2 separate regions of the Homo sapiens genome follow, and region 2 is linked to region 1. The links come from fine-mapping of genetic effects on gene expression. A gene starts in region 1. The other region holds a variant in brackets. All regions are shown on one strand. Distances are between the middles of the regions. Region 1 holds the start of MELTF (melanotransferrin). Region 2 holds the start of MELTF-AS1 (MELTF antisense RNA 1).

The links.
Region 2: its variant is fine-mapped to the expression of MELTF in nasal epithelium (TOPMed, PIP above 0.99).

What each region holds. Positions count from the first base shown.
Region 1 is chr3:197,023,660-197,034,788 of GRCh38, reverse strand. MELTF (melanotransferrin) reads left to right here and starts at 4,972. Exons shown (of 16, transcript NM_005929.6): 1 at 4,972-5,135; 2 at 6,879-7,033; 3 at 8,030-8,129; 4 at 10,304-10,486. The coding sequence starts at 5,087. RefSeq lists enhancers at 2,957-3,251, 2,356-3,555, 3,943-4,579, 4,580-5,216 and silencers at 4,750-5,239, 5,290-5,339, 5,530-5,709.
Region 2 is chr3:196,996,849-197,007,977 of GRCh38, reverse strand. MELTF (melanotransferrin) reads left to right here. Exons shown (of 16, transcript NM_005929.6): 14 at 1,242-1,429; 15 at 3,879-4,077; 16 at 4,527-6,238. The coding sequence ends at 4,606. It overlaps MELTF-AS1 (MELTF antisense RNA 1), which reads right to left and starts at 5,072. Exons shown (of 4, transcript NR_038285.1): 1 at 5,005-5,072; 2 at 4,008-4,376; 3 at 3,619-3,881; 4 at 3,234-3,484. It also overlaps the pseudogene RPSAP30. RefSeq lists silencers at 4,114-4,513, 4,554-5,343, 5,494-5,573. The variant A/G (reference allele first, on the strand shown) is at 5,768.

The sequences.
Region 1 (11,129 bases):
CCAGTCAGCAAGAGTGTAACATCCTCTGACATCACACTACTGCAGGTGCTCACACAGTAACCAGTCAGCAAGAGTGTAACATCCTCTGACATCACACTACTGCAGGTGCTCACACCCCAACAAGTCAGCAAGAGGGTAACATCCTCTGACATCACACTACTGCAGATGCTGACACCCCAACCCGTCAGCAAGAGTGTAACATCCTCTGACATCACACTACAGCAGGTGCTCACACAGTAACCAGTCAGCAAGAGAGTAACATCCTCTGACATCACACTACTGCAGGTGCTCACACCCCAACCAGTCAGCAAGAGCGTAACATCCTCTGACATCACACTACTGCAGGTGCTCACATCCCATCCCGTCAGCAGGAGAGTAACATCCTCTGACATCACACCACTGCAGGTGCTCACACCCCAACCAGCCAGCAAGAGCGTAACATCCTCTGACATCACACTACTGCAGGTGCTCACACCCCAACCAGTCAGCAAGAGAGTAACATCCTCTGACATCACACTACTGCAGGTGCTCACACCCCAACCAGTCAGCAAGAGCGTAACATCCTCTGACATCACACTACTGCAGGTGCTCACATCCCATCCCGTCAGCAGGAGAGTAACATCCTCTGACATCACACCACTGCAGGTGCTCACACCCCAACCAGCCAGCAAGAGCGTAACATCCTCTGACATCACACTACTGCAGGTGCTCATGTCCCAACCAGTCAGCAAGAGTGTAACATCCTCTGACATCACACTACTGCAGGTACTCACCCCAACCAGTCAGCAAGAGTGTAACATCCTCTGACATCACACGACTGCAGGTGCTCACACCCAACCAGTCAGCAAGAGTGTAACATGCTCTGACATCACACTACTGCAGGTGCTCACACCACAACCAGTCAGCAAGAGTGTAAAATCTTCTGACATCACACGACTGCAGGTGCTCACACCCAACCAGTCAGCAAGAGTGTAACATCCTCTGACATCACACTACTGCAGGTGCTCACACAGTAACCAGTCAGCAAGAGAGTAACATCCTCTGACATCACACTACTGCAGATGCTCACACCCCAACCAGTTGGCAAGAGTGTAACATCCTCTGACATCACACTACTGCAGATGCTCACACCCCAACCAGTTGGCAAGAGTGTAACATCCTCTGACATCACACTACTGCAGGTGCTCACACCCAAACCAGTCAGCAAGAGAGTAACATCCTCTGACATCACACTACTGCAGGTGCTCACACGCCAACCCGTCAGCAAGAGTGTAACATCCTCTGACATCACACTACTGCAGGTGCTCACACCCAAACCAGTCAGCAAGAGTGTAACATCCTCTGACATCACACTACTGCAGGTGCTCACACCCCAACCAGTCAGCAAGAGTGTAACATCCTGTGACATCACACTACTGCAGGTGCTAACGTCCCAACCAGTCAGCAAGAGCGTAACATCCTGTGACATCACACTACTGCAGATGCTCACACCCCAACCCATCAGCAAGAGTGTAACATCCTCTGACATCACACTACTGCAGGTGCTCACACCCCAACAAGTCAGCAAGAGGGTAACATCCTCTGACATCACACTACTGCAGATGCTGACACCCCAACCCGTCAGCAAGAGTGTAACATCCTCTGACATCACACTACAGCAGGTGCTCACACAGTAACCAGTCAGCAAGAGTGTAACATCCTCTGACATCACACTACTGCAGGTGCTCACACCCCAACCAGTCAGCAAGAGTGTAAAATCTTCTGACATCACACGACTGCAGGTGCTCACACCCCAACCAGTCAGCAAGAGAGGTAACATCCTCTGACATCACACTACTGCAGGTGCTCACACCCCAACCAGTCAGCAAGAGTGTAAAATCTTCTGACATCACACTACTTCAGGTGCTCACACCCAACCCATCAGCAAGAGTGTAACATCCTCTGACATCACACTACTGCAGGTGCTCATGTCCCAACCAGTCAGCAAGAGTGTAACATCCTCTGACATCACACTACTGCAGGTGCTGACACCCCAACCAGTCAGCAAGAGTGTAAAATCTTCTGACATCACACGACTGCAGGTGCTCACACCCCAACCCATCAGCAAGAGTGTAACATCCTCTGACATCACACTACTTCAGGTGCTCACACCCCAACAAGTCAGCAAGAGGGTAACATCCTCTGACATCACACTACTGCAGGTGCTCACACCACAACCAGTCAGCAAGAGTGTAAAATCTTCTGACATCACACGACTGCAGGTGCTGACACCCCAACCAGTCAGCAAGAGCGTAACATCCTCTGACATCACACTACTGCAGGTGCTCACACCCAAACTTTCTCAGGGCACACCAGCCTTCCAAGGGTTCCCCAGAATAAAAACTATTTGGCTTGTTCTTAAAGACATTGCGGGCCATAGAAATAGACAGACAGAAATTATGATTTGTTGAAAAATATTTTTTCCTAAGTACAATATTTTACTTCGTTTTGGGTAAAGGATTTCACCCTTTGCTGGCTCATTAGCCACTACCTGCTGATGGACCTTCTCAGTCTCCTGTCAAAGGCCCCCACTTTCTGAGGCTGCCTGTAGTGTATTCCCTCCATGGGATGTACTGTTCCTCGATTCCCTGACAAGCAAGCTCAATGCTTCTGGGCACTCTGAATCCTTGGAGAGCCAGAGCTGTGTCTTTGGCAAGAGTGGAGAAGAGCTCTTTTTATTTCATATTATGGGGTAGGGTCAGGGAGACTCAGGCAGAGCTGCTTAGGCCCCAGAATCTGATCGAAGTGTCAGTGAAACCAGTTCCTTTAGTCTGTATGCTCTCCCTCTAATCTCAATATGAGTCTAGAATGGGGACCAAACTAACCTCAGCTTCTGCTCCTCCAGAAGGCTGTTTGTGGGTTAAACTACTGGCTTATTACTCTCTCATTACATCCCACCCATTTCTCTGGCACACCCAAGTATGTCCGGACCCCAGAAATGGCAGAATCCTGGCTCAAGCTGAGGCAGACTTCCCCATTCCACAAAGGTGATGCGCGTTCATGCCAACCCTGGGCCAACGGGCCCGATGTAGAATCCCTGAGAACCCAGAGGCAGCAAGTTCACTGATGAGTCACAGCTGAATGACACCCAAGAGATAAGGGAAGAACTTCATTGTGAAAGAGCCCAGCAAACCTCTTAGGTTATGGTTGTTCTCACTCCCTATCAGCGTCACGTGGAGTTTTGCCAAAGGAAGGACTTAGTCATCAAACAGATCCTGCCAGTCATCTGGTGGCTCCTGGAGTGTGCCAACTGAGCCTTTCTATCCTCGTGGTCAGGAGAACGAGGCTTGTTAAGGACTCTTCTATTTATTCCATCTTCTTAGGACAAGCCATCAGCCCCTCTAGCAAGGCTGCCTGCTAGTCCATTCGGCACCTTTGTGCAAACTAGGAAGAAGGGATCCATCTGGGGGGATGGAGAAACAGCTTCCACAGCACAAGTCCTCCAGAGCAGACAGGAGACGGAAAGTATGGCACGTCACGGCCATCATGACCTACCTTTTACATGTGGGGAACAAGCCCAGAGAGGGCGACGAACTCGCCCAGGGTCTGTAAGTCGCTGGTTTTTAAAAAGTAGAGCTCGAGTCTCCTGAAGCCCAGCCCATGTTCCTTCCCCTGATCCAGTGTGTGATAAGCAGTAGCTTCATGGCCCCATAGGAGGGAGGCCTTCCTTCCCCAGGGCGCAGAGCAAGCTCAAGGACAGACAAACTCAGAGGGATGTCTTCTCTCTCACTGTTGTACTTACCCATGTCAGAGAGAGACATCATTTCTGAGTCTCAGAGGGGCTGATGACATAAAGGTGAGGCCTAAATGGAGGCAGGTGACTAACAATGTCTTCAGTTCATTCCCCGCATCCCCAACCACATGGGGAGTGCCGCTTTTGCCCGCCTGCGACAGTGGTTCTCAACATTTGCTGTGCCCCGAAATAAAAACAGATTGTGGGCCCCGCCCCCAGAGCTGTCGATCCAGTGGGTCGGAGGTGGGGCCTGAGCACTTGCATTTCCAGCAAGTTCCAGGGTGATGCTCACGTTGCTGGCCTAGGGACCACACTGAGAACCACTGTCCTAGAAATACGGTCAACCCACCCTTTCCTCCCTCACCTTCTTCACTCTCTTCCTCCCCTTCTCCGCCTGTTTCTCCTTTTCCGCTTCCTCCAATTCCTCTCTGGTCCTCTTCTCACCTTCCAATCAGCTGGCTCTGCCACTGACTGGATGCCTGACTCGGGCAAGTCACCTCCCGTCTCTAGGCCCGAGGAGAGGCAGTCGGCTAGGCCGAGATGCCCCTGCCCGGCTCCCCCCTCGCCAGGGCGCTCGGCCTGGGCTCCCCCGTATCCCAGATCCTCTGTGCAGCTGTGGCCGAGATGCCCCTGCCCGGCTCCCCCCTCGCCAGGGCGCTCGGCCTGGGCTCCCCCGTATCCCAGATCCTCTGTGCAGCTGTGGCCGAGATGCCCCTGCCCGGCTCCCCCCTCGCCAGGGCGCTCGGCCTGGGCTCCCCCGTATCCCAGATCCTCTGTGCAGCTGTGGCCGAGATGCCCCTGCCCGGCTCCCCCCTCGCCAGGGCGCTCGGCCTGGGCTCCCCCGTATCCCAGATCCTCTGTGCAGCTGTGCTGGGAGGGAGCTGCTGCGTGAATGAGATCATCCTCCAGCTGCCCTCCAGCCCCGACTCTGGGATTCTGACCTCTCCTTCCTTCCACGTCTGAGCTTTTCTCTCTCCAGTTAGACACGGTATCTGGAGTCTTTCTAGGGCGCGAGGAGGGGAGGATACCCTGGAACGCGGGGTAGGAGGCTGAGGCGAGAGCCCCGAGCAGCGGCGCCCGGGCCCGAGCGGGAGGCCTCCAGCAGGGGGCGCGCCGGGGCCGCCCAGGGGCGGGGTCCGGGGTCGGCGGGAGGTGACCTGCGCCCCAGGGGCGTGGATTCCGCCCGGGAACTCGCGGCCGCACTTAAGGAGCTCGGGCCAGCGCGAGGGGGAGCAGGGAGGAAGCCCGGCTGCTGCGGACCTCCTCGGACCCGGACCCAGCCCCAGCCCGGCCCCAGCCAGCCCCGACGGCGCCATGCGGGGTCCGAGCGGGGCTCTGTGGCTGCTCCTGGCTCTGCGCACCGGTGAGGCCCCGCTGTGAGAGCCAAAGGCGGGCGGGGGTCCCGGGGCGCCGCGGCCCGGCTGAGCAGGTCCCGGGGCTGGAAATGTGCCTGAGCCTGCGGCTCCGGGGCAGTGAGACGGGGGAGGCAGGGGCTCGGGGTCGAGTGAGGACGGCGGAGGGAACTAGCACTGAAGCGCAGACGGGGAAGTCTGGAAGGCTTCTTGGAGGAGGCGGCCTCGAACACCCGAGGCTTCCGACGCTCCAAGGAGAAGCGCGGGCTGAGGCGTGGTGGGGAGGCCTCGGGGTGTGGAGAGGAGCTCCCGGAGGGCGGCCCCTCCCGACGGGCGCAGGAACTCAGGAAGACTTTGGGGGCTCGGAGCAGCTCTTTCTCCCGAGCCCCCGCGGGAGAAGATTCAGAGGGACTGACCGGCAGGCGCGGGAGTCCGCCCGGGGGTTTCTGGCACATGCAGGGATGGAGGTGGAGACGGAGGCCGGGTCCCCTCGCGTCGGCGCCCCGGGGAGTCAGGGCCCGGGATGGTGGGACGGGAGGCGGGACCTCGGGGAGCGGCTCGCGGGGATCGCGGGCGGCGACCGCCGAGGGGATGGAGTTCGTGGCACCGCTGTGGCCGCAGGCGACGCACTCATCAATGCAAACGATGAAGCCACCGCCACCCCCGCCCCGTCTGAACTTTGCAGTTTCCCGCCTGGGTGGTGGGGGGCTTGGAGCGCTGCGGAGGGGAGGGCAGTTCGACTTCCCAGGCCTCCGCCAGGAGTGGGGAGGGGAGGGCTGTGGCGGAAGCTTCAGTCTCGGCCCTTGGGCTGGTGGGGCTGCCACGGGAGGGTGACCTGGTTTCGGGCGGAGTCATGCGTTTCCCTCCCTCCTGCACAGGCCTCTGGCAGTGCTGGCTGGGGCAGGGTGAATGGCAGAGGAGCTCAGGCCTGAAAGTCATCGGCCCCAAGGGGCTCCAGCACCCCTTCCTCTGGGCCCCTAGCCTGGGAGCTCTCGGGGACTCTGACCCGGTCAGATCCTGAGGCATAAGCAGAAGTCCACTGAGGATGTGGGTGTCTCAGGCTCTCTACAAGGGGGTTTACTTTCAACACAGAAGGTGGGGTTTTTATCTGCTCTCTCAGAAGATGAAGCAGGCTCAGAGAGGCTTGAACCTACCCTGATGGGTCCTCAGCCTCCCCTCTGTGCCTGCCGTCTTCCCTTGGCAGGGCCTGGCACTGTGCCCACCGAGGGTGGCTTTGCAGCCAGCATCATCGCAGACACTCCCCGAGGGGACAGGGCTCCTGGAGGGCAGCCCACCCACAGCCCCCTCACCTCACTCTCCCGTCCCAGTTCATGAGGAAGGCCCAGGGACACTGCTGGGTGAGGGAACCTACACGAGCACCCTCTTCGGGAGGCCTGGAGAGGGGAAGAAGCTTCCACTTCCAGGGCCTGCCGAGACTCCCTAGCCAGTGCTCCCACCAGGTGGGGGTAGCTGAGAAGCGACCTGTAGACCCTCCCATTCCTCCATAAAGGGCCGGGTTCTGAGCCATTCCATTTGCCAGCAGCCGTGCTCCTGGTCAGAGAGGCCCTGAGCACAGGAATACCAGCCCTTCCCCTGTCTCTGCGCCTAGTGCCTCCCTGTGGGAGGGCAGGGCTGCCCTAGAGGACTGGCTGTCCAGGCGAATGGGCTCACACAGAACTGCTGGAGCCACCCTCCATGGTGGGCCGGGGCTGGGCAGGGCGGGGGAGCCGGGCCTCACGGTCCCCTGCCCGCAGTGCTCGGTGGCATGGAGGTGCGGTGGTGCGCCACCTCGGACCCAGAGCAGCACAAGTGCGGCAACATGAGCGAGGCCTTCCGGGAAGCGGGCATCCAGCCCTCCCTCCTCTGCGTCCGGGGCACCTCCGCCGACCACTGCGTCCAGCTCATCGCGGTGAGTCCTCTCCCTTCCACCCTGCCAGACAAGAGGGCTGTGACTCAGGAGGGAGCACACAACAGCCCCATTCACCAGGAAAGGAGCCGACCTCGCCCTGCCAGGCCCGGCCGATAGGATCTCCCGAGTCTCCCTGGCCACGAGGCCAGCTTGCCTCCCGCCGGGCCCAGGCCAGGAGGTGGGAGCCTCAGGAGGACCCGCTGCTCAGAGGGCGCCAGCAAAGAAAGGCACCTGAGAGGCTTCCCTTCCACAAGGCCCCTGCCAAGGGGGCCCAGATGGTGGCGGCCCCTCAGTGGCCGCAGGCGGTTACTTGCTCATCTTGCCATGGGGCTCTCCAGAATGGGGCTTGTGTGGTTTCTGGGGAAGGAGGAGCAGGGGCTGGACTCCCAGGTGGGTGAGCATGGGGTAGGAGAGCAGGTCTGCTGAGAACTGCTAAATGACACTGACAATCCTCCGAGGCACCACCAGAGAGTGGCGTCCCTCCTGGGTGGGTGCAAAGAAAGCTGGCTTTTCATTCCAGCTCTGCCCCCCATATGCCCCCAAGACCTAATCCAATCACAGGCCCACACTGGGGCCAAGGCTGTGGGTCAGGCTCCATGTGAGGGCAGAAACCCCAAGCACAGACCACCTTAGAGAAAAAAAGCTAGAAAACCTAGGGTAGCAGTAGAGGCGCAGGGTGGAGGGACAGAAAGCGAGGGAGACTCACTTGTCACTGCGCACCGTTTTCTGCTATCTGATTTTTTTACTATGATATCTGAGTCCTGCAAAATCAATGATTAGTATTTTTTTTTTAACATTATTAGGAAAACAAGGTGAATCCCTGGCCTGGGAAAGGGGGAGAGCCCTGGGCTCTGGTTGGGCTCCTGGGACAGATGAGAAGGACAGCACAGCCCTCTGGGGCTTGGGGTGGGGCCCCAGGCCATCTGGTAGGTGTCCCGAGTTCTTTGCTGAGCAGGCCAGCTGGGCCAGGCTTGGCTGAGCCACATTTCCTTGCAGGCCCAGGAGGCTGACGCCATCACTCTGGATGGAGGAGCCATCTATGAGGCGGGAAAGGAGCACGGCCTGAAGCCGGTGGTGGGCGAAGTGTACGATCAAGGTAAGAGGGTGCAGTGGGAGGAGAGAGGACAGCCTGCGCTGGAAGTCAGCTCTCCAGGCTGCCCTTGCTGGGCCTGGCCTGAGCTGGCCATCAGCCCTGTCCACAGAGCAGTCCTGGAGTCCCAGCCAGAAGAACGCCCTAAGGCTCTCTCAAATTCCCCAGGGACAGGAGCTCCAGGGACACAGAGAGCTGCCCCAAGTCTGCTCTTGCCCGCAGGGAGCCCAGCAGCCCCCTAGCCTGTGCCCACTCAGCTCTTACTGCGGGCTGTCCCGGGCCTGGCGTGGTGCCGGGCACGGTGCTGTGTGCGTAACTGCCTTGGGTGAGCAAGGCGTCCTTAATGCCGAGCCACCTGCACTCTCAGGGCCTCCCTTCAGAAGCCCGGCTCCGGGTAGGGAGGTGCTGTCTGGCAGCGGCACAGCTCAGCAGACCCAGCCCTTCCCCTTCCCATGACTTCTGTGACCTTGGCCAACCTCCACTTCCCAGACTGTATAATGGGGATAGTAACACCTGCGCTGTCACCCAGACTAAATGAGCCAGGCCGTGTGCCCACCTGACATGTGGTATGTGCTGGAAAGTGTGAGTTCCTTTGCCCAGTCCCCGCATCACACATGGGACCTGCCTCCAGCTCAGCCAGCTCCTGTGTCTCCCCCGCCACCTCTGCTTGGCCGGTGCCTGGCCTCCATCACAGTCCAGCGCAACTGTCACCTCCTCCAAGGTGCTCCCTGAGCCCCTCCCTCTCTGGAGCAGGGCCTCTCTTGCCCGCACCCACATGGCCTCTGCAAGCCTCTGCCTGCTCAGTCTCGTTAGTCCTCAGAGGAGGGTCCAGTCTTCCCCTGTGTCTACCCTCTGGAACTCCACACAGCATCTCGCTTGGAGAAAGCACTGGCTGGTTCCTTGTTGAATTAATGGCCATCAAATGACACACGGCACAGTCCAACCCTGCACACCCATCAGCCAGAAACAGCTCTGCCTCCGAGGCCCCACGCACCTCTTCCTCTTTAATTAACTCGACACCTCTACTGAGCACCTGCTACCCGCTGGTCATAAGCATGCAGCAGTAAACGAAGAGACCTTCCTGCCCCCACAGAGCAGAGAGTAAATAAACACACCCAAAACAATACAGTGACACATGTTGGGGTGCTGTGAGGAAAAGGGAAGGGCAGGACAGAGAAAACGAGGGTTGCGGGGAAATCCACTGAAATAGAGCAGGCAGGACGGTGCTCTGCAGAGGTGATGGGTAAGCTGAGCCCCGCAACCATCTCAGGCGGTCCAGAGGATTGGTAAGAAACAAGGCGGGTGAGTCAGAGGATGGTACCAGACGGAGCTACTCAGGTTGGCGGGGGCCAGACCCTGGTGTGCAAGAAGTAACACTGGCTTTATGTTCTAGAACTCAACTTCATTCTGATATGGCCTCCCACACCACCGGGCAGTTTGTGCACGCGTGCATGCCTGCGTGTGTGCGCCCGTGCGATGGGAGACCCTCTGGGCATCAGTTCCCACAGCTGAGTCTGTGTTTTGCCTGAGCAGCCCCTTGGAGCCACCTTGGCACAGGGGAACGCTTTGCAAGGCTGCAGAGCCCTGGCCCCACCACACACACCCTGCAGCATTCAGGGTCGTGAGCGACTTGGGGCCACATCGCTAGTTCTCTCTGTCTCTGCCTCTGTCTCACTCTCCTTCAACCCCCTCAGCACCAGGAAATCGCCGCTCCTCATCTGGGGAAGCCCCTCCTCGGCTCCCCTGCTCCTCCCAGACACCCTTCTTCCCATGACCCTGACACCATTCCCCCAAACCCTCCAAGTTCTCCTAGGGGCCTAGGCTCTTGGAAAGCAAGGACTTGCTGGCTTCTGCTTTCTGTCCAGCTAAATAACTCCCCTGATGTGAGCAAATGTGGACCCAGCTAAGCACCAGCTGCTGGGGAAGGAAGAGGGGGAAATCAATGAATACATCAATATCTCAGGATCGTCTCTACCTCAAGAGGCTAGAGGGCAGGGCCTCTTAATACATGCAGATGAAGCCCACTTGCTCTCTTGGTAACGAGAACGCTATGCACACATCCGTGTGTACAGCCGTGCTCCGTGCACACACCTCTCCCACAGCCCGCCCAGGCAGGGTGCTGGTGCAGCCTCTCTCGAGGCCTCTCCCTGCTGCCCTCACCCACTCCCCTCCCCTCCTAGAGGTCGGTACCTCCTATTACGCCGTGGCTGTGGTCAGGAGGAGCTCCCATGTGACCATTGACACCCTGAAAGGCGTGAAGTCCTGCCACACGGGCATCAATCGCACAGTGGGCTGGAACGTGCCCGTGGGCTACCTGGTGGAGAGCGGCCGCCTCTCGGTGATGGGCTGCGATGTACTCAAAGGTGAGGGCTTTGGGCTGGGCAGGAGGGTCCCCAGGCCTCCCCCTCCTTTCCTTGGCCCATGCTCGTCCCTTCACTGGGTAGCCTCCCTCCGGCCTCGCCACCATTCTTCATTCCTGGAAGGCGCAGCAGCCCCCGCCCGCCCCGTGCCTCCCCCGCCTCCACTCTGCCGCCGGCGCCGCCGCTTGACTTCCTGCTTGCTTGGACCCTGTGGGGCGCGATTCTTGCTCACGCATCGTGGTGTCCCACATGGCACAGCCAGGCACAGGCCCAGCCCATGAGTGGGAAGCAGTGAATCTCCCAGGAGTGCTTCCCACCAGTATAGACCGGGCGCAGGTCACTGTGTCTAGAAATGTGTCCTCGGCTTTACAGGACCAGAAATGCTATTTTTTCAGGACCCAAACGAGGTGCCGACTTGCACCCAGAAAGCTCCCAAGTGGCTCATCAGCCCAACCAGCCGTGTAAACCCGCGAGAGCCTGGAAGCCTCACCCTCTCAGCTGGTGGCCAGGTGTGAGTGGCTCACCAGGCACTTGGCATATTTATTAAATATCTACTCCTCTGGGAGGTCACAAAAAAAAAACCAGGAAGAGGGCTTACTCTGGAAAAGCTCAGTCTGGCTGGCGATGAGCGTGGCCCGACTGGCTC
Region 2 (11,129 bases), 27 kb after region 1:
TTGTACTGTCTGCATACCCTGCCTACACCCCAGGCTTTGAAACCCCAAATGCTGGAGGCCCAGTCTTCTCCACTCGCTCCCAACATGTCTCCTCCTATAGACTTAGCCCAGAAAGGCACAACTGTGGCCCGGTGGGGAGGGGACTGGACAATGGGAAGCAAGACGTGCAGGGAAAAAAACGAAAACCTCAGTTAGTGTTTCAAAACTTGGATCTTGCCTCCTATGGGGGTCACCAAGGCGGTAGGACCATTTGCCCCAGCAGAGCTAGGGAGGGCTCCAGGCCCTGAACCCTTCCTGTTGCCACAGCCCAGCTCCCCCACCCAGCCTCCTACCAAGAACACCTGAAACCCTCCCCCAGGGAGGGGCTGTGTGCTCCTGCACGAGCCCAGCGGGCCTGCCTGGTCCCAGATCTGTGCATGGTGTCGTCTGGGATGGGGTCAGGGGAGGCGGGCAGGTGCTGGAGAGGCCTTGGGAGGTTCACTTGCAGTGAGTCACCCGCCTCCCAGGGCCACTCCTTTCCCTTTTATCTTTAGCTCTCCTCAAGGCCCACCTGGATTTCCTGGAAATGGGAGGAGGATGGATACTAAGTGAATGCACAGAGACATGAAAATGTGATTCCTGAGGGCAGCATTTTCTCAGGCAGCCCGAGACCGCCTGCTTTAGAATCAGTGGGATGCTGGTTTAACATGCAGATTCTTGAGCCTGATCTGAGACCTCCTGAATAAGATTCTTTGCAAGCAAGGGCCCTTGAAGCTGCCTTCTGCATCCACAAGTGATGCTATACCCTGTTCCATTTGAGAACTTCAGCCCTTAGGGACAATCACCCACCACCTTCAGGGAGCCACCCCACACTCAGGCTTGAGGATGTAACACATAGATGGGGTTCTCTGCCTGGGAGTGATTAACAGCCTCAGTTTCCTCACCTGTAAAATGGGGACAAAAACACCTACCCTGCGTTACTGTTGTGGGGATCAAGCAACGCGTGTAAAGTACTTGTCACATAGTAGGTACTCCCTACTCCCTGCTAATTAATGGCAGCTCCTGCTAATGGCATGAACACAGCTGGGTTCTTTCACCCCGGTAACACAGCAGAGCACGTGGAGAATGGAGAGGGTTGGGGAGCTGGCCAGATGTTGCCACCTCCCTGTGGTGAAGGCCTTGGGGTCCCAGGATAGCAGCTTCTCTTTACACTTCTCTCCACTCCCGGAACGTCCCCACACACACTGCTTTACCCCCCTCAGGCCACAATTCCGAGCCCTGGGCTGCTGAGCTCAGGTCAGAGGACTATGAACTGCTGTGCCCCAACGGGGCCCGAGCCGAGGTGTCCCAGTTTGCAGCCTGCAACCTGGCACAGATACCACCCCACGCCGTGATGGTCCGGCCCGACACCAACATCTTCACCGTGTATGGACTGCTGGACAAGGCCCAGGTGAGCCAGGGTGGGGCTACCTCATTGAGGGGTGTGCAGCAGAGGTAAGCTGAGCCCCTGGGAGGCCTCAGTCTACCTGGAGCAGACCTCTAGAGAAATTGAGGAAGCCCGGGGGAAATTCTGTGATTTTCACTTACGCAAGGACATCCCTCCAGAAACTGTCCCCTCTGCCTCCTGCATCGTTGATTTTCCCTTCTCAGTCGGACCATTTTCACCAACATGAAACATGCTGTGACTTCTGCCATCCTTAAAGAACAAACTAACCTCTTGGTCTCACATCCATCCTCTTGCAGCTGTAATCCTGCTCCCTTTTTTTCTTTTTTTTTTGAGACGGAGTCTTACTCTGTCGCCCCAGGCTGGAGTGCAGTGGCACTATCTCGGCTCACTGCAAGCTCCGCCTCCCGGGTTCACGCCATTCTCCCACCTCAGCCTCCTGAGTAGCTGGGACTACAGGCACCCGCCACCATGCCTGGCTAATTTTTTCTATTTTTTAGTAGAGAAGGGGTTTCACCGTGTTAGCCAGGATGGTCTCGATCTCCTGACCTCGTGATCCGCCCACCTCGGCCTCCCAAAGTGCTGGGATTACAGGCATGAGCCACTGTGCCCGGCCAATCCTGCTCCCTTTCGAAGCAAAACTCCTCCAAAGAGTGGTCTGCTCTGGAGTTAACAAGTCCTCTCCTCTGGCCTCTCTTAAGGATGGAGACTGAGTTAGCAAGTCCTCTCCTCTGGCCCCTCTTAAGGATGGAGACTACCCCAGACAGGCTCCCACCAGGGCCCTGAAGCTGTTCTTGTCAAGGTCACAGTGACCCATGTTGCTAAACCCAGTGGCCATTTCTCAGTCTTCATTTTACTTGACCTCTCAGTGGCACTGGCCACAGCTCTCCCTCCTCCTGGAAACACCTTCCCCTGCAGATGCCCAGGTCCTCAGCCCTGCCTGGCTGTCCTCTCACTCTCTGGCCACTCCTCAGTCTTCTCTGCTGATTTCCTCCCCATCTCCCTGACCTGTTAGCCCTAGGATTCAGTTCTCAGCCCTCTTCCCTGTCTACAGCTTACCCTTGATCTCATCCAATCCCATGTCATCAAATACCATCTATATACAGATGGCTTCTAAATTTACATCTTCAGACATCAGTCCCAAACTTGCATATTTAACTACATACTTGACATTTTGACTTGTGTTTCTAACAGTCATCTCAAATGGATCAAGTCCAAAGTTGGACCCCCGTCCCTCCTTCAGTCTTCCCCACTTCAATTAAGAGCAACTTTAGCTTTTCCATTTCCTCGGGAGTCATTTTTGACTCCGGTCTTCCTCTCGTGCTCTACAGCCAATCTATCAGCAGATCCCATTGGTTGTGCTTTCAAAATATACCTAGAATTTAAACCCAGGTTGTCTCACAATGGAGCCACTGGTTTCTAACCACTCCCCCTCCCCCGACTTATGCTGAAATTGCCTTCTCCACACCCACCAGCACCACAGAACTGCAGAGCTGGCTGGCTCGCCAGGCCTGTTCCTAAACTTTGACATTGTGAACTGACGCATGTTCCTTCCTGTCATCTTCCCCACAGAACCCCTCTATCCCAGGAGTGCTTTACTCTGGGTCCCTGGGCTTCCCTAGGGGGTTGCTAAGTCCTCTGAAGTAATGTGGGAGAAGAATCCTGGGTGGATGTGCATTTTTCTGGGGAGAAGGCTGACAGCTTTCATCAGATCTTCAGGAGGATCTGCGAGTCCCTCCAAAAAGACTGAGAGCCACCTGACTCCTTCGTTCCTCCTTGATCAGTACTTAACACTTTACATAGACATTCATGCATGTTCTCCAGATGTCCTTTATTTATATTCGTATTCATAAGTTCTCATACTACTTCTGGTCTTTTTAGTAGCTCTTTTAGGGCTGTAGCCACAGAACGGTCATTCTAGTGATTCTGAGCAGGGTGGAGAGGAGTGCAGCATCCCTGGGCGGGTGGGTCAGTGAAGACACGCCCAGCTCACCTGATATTCTGTGACTGGTTGCAGAACACAAGTCCCTCTCGAAATTGTTTAGGTTTGTGGGGAGATATCTGTAAGACAGAGTGAGAAAGCCTTATGGAAAAGGCCAAGAAGTGCTCAGCAGGCCTAGCAGAACGCTCAGGAATCCCACCCACACCATCCCTCATTTCTGGGTCTTTCTTCCTGGACATCTCAGGCCTCAGACCTGCATCCAGGAGCTGGAGCACCGCAGTGCTTCTGAACGCCTCTTCCAGTGGCACCTGCGGGCCTAGTGTCCCCACACCCGCTTGGGTGACAGAGGCCAATCAGTTGTCAAGCTTATGACTTCCAATCAGAGTGGTGGGGCCCTGAAATGACTTGCTCTTTGGGTCACTGTATGTAAAGCAATTTGCAGCTAGCGGCACTGGGCGGGTGACCCTGCCTGAGCCCAGTGAGGAGCAGGTCGTCTGCCTGCGGTGCTTCCAGGACCTGTTTGGAGACGACCACAATAAGAACGGGTTCAAAATGTTCGACTCCTCCAACTATCATGGCCAAGACCTGCTTTTCAAGGATGCCACCGTCCGGGCGGTGCCTGTCGGAGAGAAAACCACCTACCGCGGCTGGCTGGGGCTGGACTACGTGGCGGCGCTGGAAGGGATGTCGTCTCAGCAGTGCTCGGGCGCAGGTAGGACAGGCCCGCCCTGCCGCCTCCCCTGGTGCTATTCAGACCCCTTCACCCCAGAACCCTGAGGGAGCGGGGGGCGCTGCGGGTCCGGGGAGGCGGGTGGAGGCCCGTTCGCAGCAGTCCAGGTGGGGTGTCCCGGGAGGATTTTGGCCAGGAGGCTGCGGGCCGGGAGGGCGGGAGCCCGGCGGGTCTCCCAGACGGACCTGGGTAATGAGTGTGAACGCTCAAAACGGCGGCGCGGGGAGGATCTGGGGCCACGGCAGAGACATGCGTGTGCTGCCTTTCTGGAAAGAGCGCATCTGGAAGGGCAGCAGGGGAAAGGAGCACAAAGAGGGAGGCTGCGGCGAGTTCGGTCCCGAAAGATGCCCCCACCCCCACCCCAGAGCGGGCGCCTGAGGCGGCCACCGCGGCCCGGGCTTCGGGGCCTGACCCGCCGCGTTCGTCCCCAGCGGCCCCGGCGCCCGGGGCGCCCCTGCTCCCGCTGCTGCTGCCCGCCCTCGCCGCCCGCCTGCTCCCGCCCGCCCTCTGAGCCCGGCCGCCCCGCCCCAGAGCTCCGATGCCCGCCCGGGGAGTTTCCGCGGCGGCTTCGCGCTGGAATCCAGAAGGAAGCTCGCGAAGGCCGGGCCCGGCGTGGGCGGGAGCAGGCGCCTCCCCGGGAGCCCCGCCGCCCACGGGCGCCACCTGGCGCTGCTACCTGAGGCGCCGCCCCCGGGCCCGCGCGGCCCTTCCCGCCAACCGCCGCCTCCCGCCACCTGGAGCCGCGCGGGCCGCGCCGGAGGAGGCCGGTTGCCCAGGAAACCGCTGAGTCCGGGCTTCCCGCCGCCCGCCCCGCGGTGTCGCCCGAGGGGCCCGCCCGCCTCCTCCCCGCAGCCCCGCGCCCCCGTCCGCGAGGCCCCCTGGGGACGCGGTGGCCGCCGAGGCGCCTACACCCGCAGGCCGCGGCCAGGCCGTCCCAGGAGGCCCCGGCGCCAACGGGACCCGGCGCGTGGGACAGCGGCCTCTGCTGGCGGCGGCGGGAGGGAGGCCGGACCGGGGCGACGGGGAGAAGCCTTCGCCCGCGGGACCGTGTCCGGGGTGGGGGCTCCAGTTCCTCCGACCGCCCGTGCGCTGGGAGGGAGGCCGAGCCCGGGGAACGCCGCGTGCCCTGCCTCGTCCCCCACTGTGGCCGCGCCAGCTCCATCCCGGGCCAGCCGCGTCCACGGGCCCCCTCCCGAGTCTCCTCAGGCTCTCGCCTCCCCTACCCCCGTGGGATGCCCACCGCCCGCACCCACGCCCGAGCCTGGCGGCAGCAGCCGCCCCCCGCCTGAAGGGAGCCGGAGGTGACCCAGGCCGCGGGCTCCCGAGGCCCCTGAAGGGCTGCGCGTGGGGACCCGCCATGCTTCTGGGTTCCGAACGGGGGTGAGCTCCGTCTCCTCACCCGGCCCCGCACCCGCTGGGCCTGGGGACCCCTCACTCCCCGTGCCCGCCCCTCCGCGAGGCAGCAGAAAGCGCCCGGCCGGGGCCTCTCTCTACTCCATCTTGCCACAGTTGTCTGAGAAGCCAGAAAAAGTTTCCAGAACTGGCAGCCCTTAAAAAAAATGAAGAGGAAGAGAAGAAATGGGAGCAGGCAGCCCTCGTCAGCAGACCGGGAGCCGCGTGGGCGCGGAGCCATTTGCATTCCGGTCTGCGGGGGCTCGGGGATGCTGGTGAC[A/G]GGCCCGGTTCCCGGTGGCTCGCCCCCACCTGCGGGCGTCGGGAAGGATCCCTTCCATCTCTCAGCCGCAGAGGAGGCCCTGGCAGCGCCCCGGCTGTAGCCATGCAACCCCGAGGAGTCCCGGGCACCTTCACCCCACCGGGAGGGGCCACAAGGACCTGGGCCTCGGCCACCAAGCTTTGTCCCCTCTCGCTGTGGGGGGCTAGTGATTCTCCTCCGACCTGACGATTGCTTGGTTTTTTCAAAAGGGAGTTTTGTGCGGTGAGAAGTGTGTTTCTGTGTGGCTAACTCTGGGCTAGCGTGCCGTGGCCATTGAAGGTGTGGCCTGCGTGGGTGCAGTGTAAGTGACGCTGGATTGTCAGGTGGCAGCAGGGGACCCCTGCTGTGTCAGTGCTAATGAAACATGTTGGTTGGTTTCTAAAATAAAGCCAAACAAGCCAGCACATGCAGAGGCTTGGACCCTGATAGAAACTTCTGCTGCCGATTTCTTTCGTTTTGTTAGGCACTCAAAGGCCTACCTGCTCCACCGAGAAGGGCAGATTCCATTCTCCAAGAGCCAGTCAGGGACCACTCTCATCCTCTAGTCAGTGAGGCCCCCCGCGCCCTTCTTCGACCTGGACTGGTTCTCTGGCTCTTGCAGGGCCTCCGCTGCCCTGGCACATTCCAGCTGCCTCCACCCCATCAGGCTCTGGGGTGTCTGCCCTTCTGTGGATGGGTGCAGAGAAGGGTGCAAACTTCTCTGCTGCCCCCTGCCCCACACCTCCAAAATAAGCGGCCCACATCTTTTCTCTGGCAAGCTCGCTGCTAACTCACTGGAGGGGGGCGTGGGGAGCGGATCTCCCAGAGACCCTACAGTGGGTGCTCTGTGGTATCTACTGAGGTGGGGGTGGGCCCGGCTGGTCTTCATCAGTGCTCTGCTCTCCCTCTGGAAGGGGAGGTTTTCTCTGCTTCCCTCTCTCATGGCTTCACTTGGCCCCCACACCACCACCCCTCGCCGCTGTGGCCATCTCCCAGAGCCAGGTCTTGCCCACCACTGCACACAGGCCATTTTCCATGAAGTCGGCTCAGTTATCACAAAGCCAGTCAATTCCTGGGGACCTGGATGGCCAGAGTTGACCGACTTTGTCTCTGCATCACATGGACGAGTCTCAGCTGCACAGTCACTCCAGCTCGCCTCATGCTACCACTTCCCTACCCTGAACTTCTGGAAAGGAAAGTTAACCTTTGGGCACCCTAGCCCCTCATCTGAAAAACACACAGTACGATCACCAGCTTGGTGAGGTGGTTGTGAAGATCCAGTCTAAGATGCAAAACACTCAGCACAGTGCTTGGCACACGGCATAGAGACTAAGACACAAAACACTGCACAGTGCTTGGCACACGGCATAGAGTCTAAGACACAAAACACTCAGCACAGTGCTTGGCACACGGCATAGAGTCTAAGACACAAAACACTCAGCACAGTGCTTGGCACACGGCATAGAGTCTAAGACACAAAACACTCAGCACAGTGCTTGGCACACGGCATAGAGTCTAAGACACAAAACACTCAGCACAGTGCTTGGCACATGGCATAGAGTCTAAGACACAAAACACTCAGCACAGTGCTTGGCACACGGTGGGTGCAGGAAGGATGTTCACTGTCACTACTGCTATTACTCCAGAGCCTGTTTTCTTGTCTTCAATTTGGAATTCCTGGGAGAGATCATCTGATTGGCCCAGTGTGCGTCAGGCATCTACCACTGGACCAGTCAGCACAGGCCAGAAGCAGGGTGTATAGCGGACACATGGCCACCGAGGCCCCAGAAAAAGGAAATGAAATCCTTGTGAGTCAGGCAGCCATGCCCCAGCACCCCCATGGCTACCAGGCCTGTTGTAGGGCTATTGGCCATTTGTTGAGCAAATACTTACTGATACCTACTTGTCAGTACCACCCCTAGACCTAGGCAAGAGGGATTCTAGTCCTCGGTTTTGTGCTTTCAAGCAGTGCTTTTCAGACCTTGATGTGCACATTAACTGCCTGGGGATCTTGTTAAAATGTAGACTCTGGTTCAGAAGGGCCAGCATGAGACTGAGAGTCTGCAGTTCAGACCAGCTCCCAGGTGGTGCCTGTGCTGGTGGTCCAGGGACCACACTTTGAGAAGCAAGCCTTCAGAGGCCTCCCCCAGACCACACCCCACACCCCACCCACAGAGGGAGCAATCACAGGGAAAAGGGATGCGTTCACTCAGGGGTCATCTTTTCTTTTTTTGAAACGGAGTCTTGCTCTGTTGCCCAAGCTGGAGTTCAGTGGCACAATCTTAGCTCACTGCAACCTCCGCCTTCCGGGTTCAAGTGATTCTCCTGCCTCAGCCTCTCAAGTAGCTGGAAATACAAGCGCCCACCACCACACATGGCTACTCTTTGTATTTTTCATAGAGATGGGGTTTCACCATGTTGGCCAGGATGGTCTCGAACTCCTGACCTCGTGATCCGCCCACCTCGGCCTCCCAAAGGCCTCCCAAAGGGATTACAGGCATGAGCCACCGCACCTGGCCCCAGAGCCCATTTTTCACACCATGTTCCAGATACCTGGGATCCTGGACTTTATACCTCAAACAGCCCTGAGCCAGCTTCCAGGGTCTGGAGGGCCCCTTACCTAGATCCTGCCTCCCAAGGTGGCCAAAGCTCTCGCAGGAGGTGTAGTTGAGCGTGATGAGCAGGCTGCCGTGTCCTCTGCAATGCGCAAGGCCCTCGAAGCGTGGGTTGCAGCCTGGATGGGAAGAGAGCGGGTGGGCTATGGCGGGGAAGCCTGTTCTGTCCGCAGCTCCTATTCTAGGCTGCTGAGTCTTTATAAAGGTTTGTTTGTCAAAGTAGGAGGACAGGACACATTCTCTTTAATAGCTTGTTAGCTTGATTTGTAACATTTAATGTGGAGCCACATGGTAGGCGGGCCTCTGTTGGTACTCTTGTCCTAGGCCCCACAAGTGCTTGGGGTCGGCCAGCCTGCTGTGTGCACAGCCCTGTGCTCAGCGCTCTGGAAGGTACAAAGAAGTAAGTACACGGCCTACTAGCCCTGCCCCCCTTGGTCTCATTTGGAGAGGCCACCGAGGTGGTGTGGTAGAAGAACACTGCTGTGCAGGAGGGACAGTGACAGGATAGACAGGGCCTTGTGGCCCACACGGCACAAGCCGTCACCCCCAGCTTCAGACTCCTCCCCAGGTGTTCTTGACTGTTTACAATGAGGATGTGTTCCTCAGGACAACATTCTTGAAAAAGATTCACACAACATTTACAATAGGTATAAATGCTACAATTTTTTAAAAAGATATATTAATTAGGCTGGGTGTGGTGGCTCACCGCTGTCAACCCAGCCCTTTGGGAGGCTGAGGTGGAAGAATCGCTTGAGCCCAGGAATTTAAGACCAGTCTGGGCAACATAGTGAGACCCCATCTCTACAAACAATTTTTAAAAAAATTAGCCCAGTGTGGTGGCCCACACCTGTACCTCCAGCTACTTGGGAGGCTGAGGTGGGAGGATCACTTGTGCCTGGGAGGTGGAGGTTCCGGTGAGCCGTGATGGTGCCACTGCACTCCAGACCAGACCCTGCCTCAAAAAAAAAGATATTCCAATTTTGTGGAATAAAAACCAGCTCACTCACCTAAGATTCAGGAAACTTGAATTCTCATTCCACTTTGGTATTCACCCTGGGCCAATACTTTCTCCTCTCCCCATCTCAGTTCCCAAATCTATAAACTGAGAAGCGGGTATGGGGCCTCGACGATTTCTAGCTCTAACAGTAATTCTTAGACTAAAACACATCTGAGTCTTCACGGGGTTGTTGCCTGTGCTGAAGTGAGAGGGGCCGGGTGGGCTCTTTTTGTTTCTGCCTTTCTCAGCTGCCTCTGCGTTGGTGCTAACAAGCCAGAAGCTGGGTTTCACAGCGGAGAGTCATATACGTCAAAGCTTCTCGCCTTGAGCGTATGTGAGGATCACCTGAGGGTTTATTAAAACATAGACTGCGAAGCTGGGTGCAATGGTGTATGCCTGTAGTCCCAGCTACTTGGAGGTTGAGGCAGGAGGATTGCTTGAGCCCAGGAGTTGAGGCCAGCCTGGGCAACATAGTGAGACTCCCATCTCTAAAAATGTATATATTGGCCAGGCATGGTGGTTCACGCCTGTAATCCCAGAACTTTGGGAAGCTGAGATGTGAGGATTGCTTGAGGCCAGTAGTTCAAGACCAGCCTGGGCAACATAGGCCCAACCTCTACACACACACACACACACACACACAGACACAAAAGTGTTTTTAATTAGCCAGGCGTGGTGGTGTTTGCCTGTGATCCCAGCTACTCGGGAGGCTGACAGGGGAGGATTGGTTGGGCCCAGGAGTTTGAGATTGCAGTGAGCTCTGAGCTATGATTGCACCATTGCACCCCAGCCTGGCAGGTTCTCAGGTGGTCTGATGCTGCCGGTCAAGCCACCTCACTTTGAAGAACACTGTTCAGGGCAATGTGAGCTCACACCCCATGAGCGCATTAACAGGTGCCTGCCCCAAGGTGTCCAGGGCTTGGGTGGGAAGGGTGAGTGGTTCCCCCTAACCAGGGAACTTCATGGAGGAAGTTGGGCCCAGCCTGGAAGACAAGCCAGGTCTGTGTCCGTGGCCCCCGTGGGCTCCATGTGGAGGGGTGGAATGTGCGGGAAGGTGCCTCAGCGCCTGGCCCGGGTCTCCGAGCACGCAGGCTGTCGGTAGAATGGCATTCTGACTTCACCCTTTCCCAGCATGCGGCTCCCCCGTCCCTCTGGCCCTGCACTCCCCACCCTCACAATTCCGAGCAGGGCCCTCGAGAACAGGAGAGAACTCAGAGATCAGCATGTGAAGGTGGTGCGTGGTCGGAATACCCCCCTTCCTCCTTCCTAGCTTCTGATGTCCCTGGAAACCTCCAACTCTACAGAAAAAACAAATGTTATCTGCTCTACTGAAGTCAGTCTTTGGGTCGCTGGAGGTTGAAGAGAAGGGCCTGGTGGTTTACCGGGCAGGGCATCCTTAGCCAAGATCCCCATCCAACAACTTGTGGCAGACTCTGCTGCTGGTCTTCTCCCCTTCTTCCTGTCTAGCAGACTCCAGTTTTGTTCGGGTGGCAGCGTGCCCAAGTACAAATACTCACTCCTGCGTGCCCAGGCAACTCGGTTCTGGCTGAAGAAACCTGAGAAGTTTCAGGGCAGCTGTTTAGGAGGAACAAACAGCTAGCACAGCCCATTGCCCCGGAGCCCGTCTCCCTCTTCCTGCCCGGAAAGTGGACAGGATCGCTGGAAAATGGAGCAAGAAGCACAAGGAAAAGGACCGCATGGTCAGGACAGCAGAGCAAAGAGACAAAAGCGT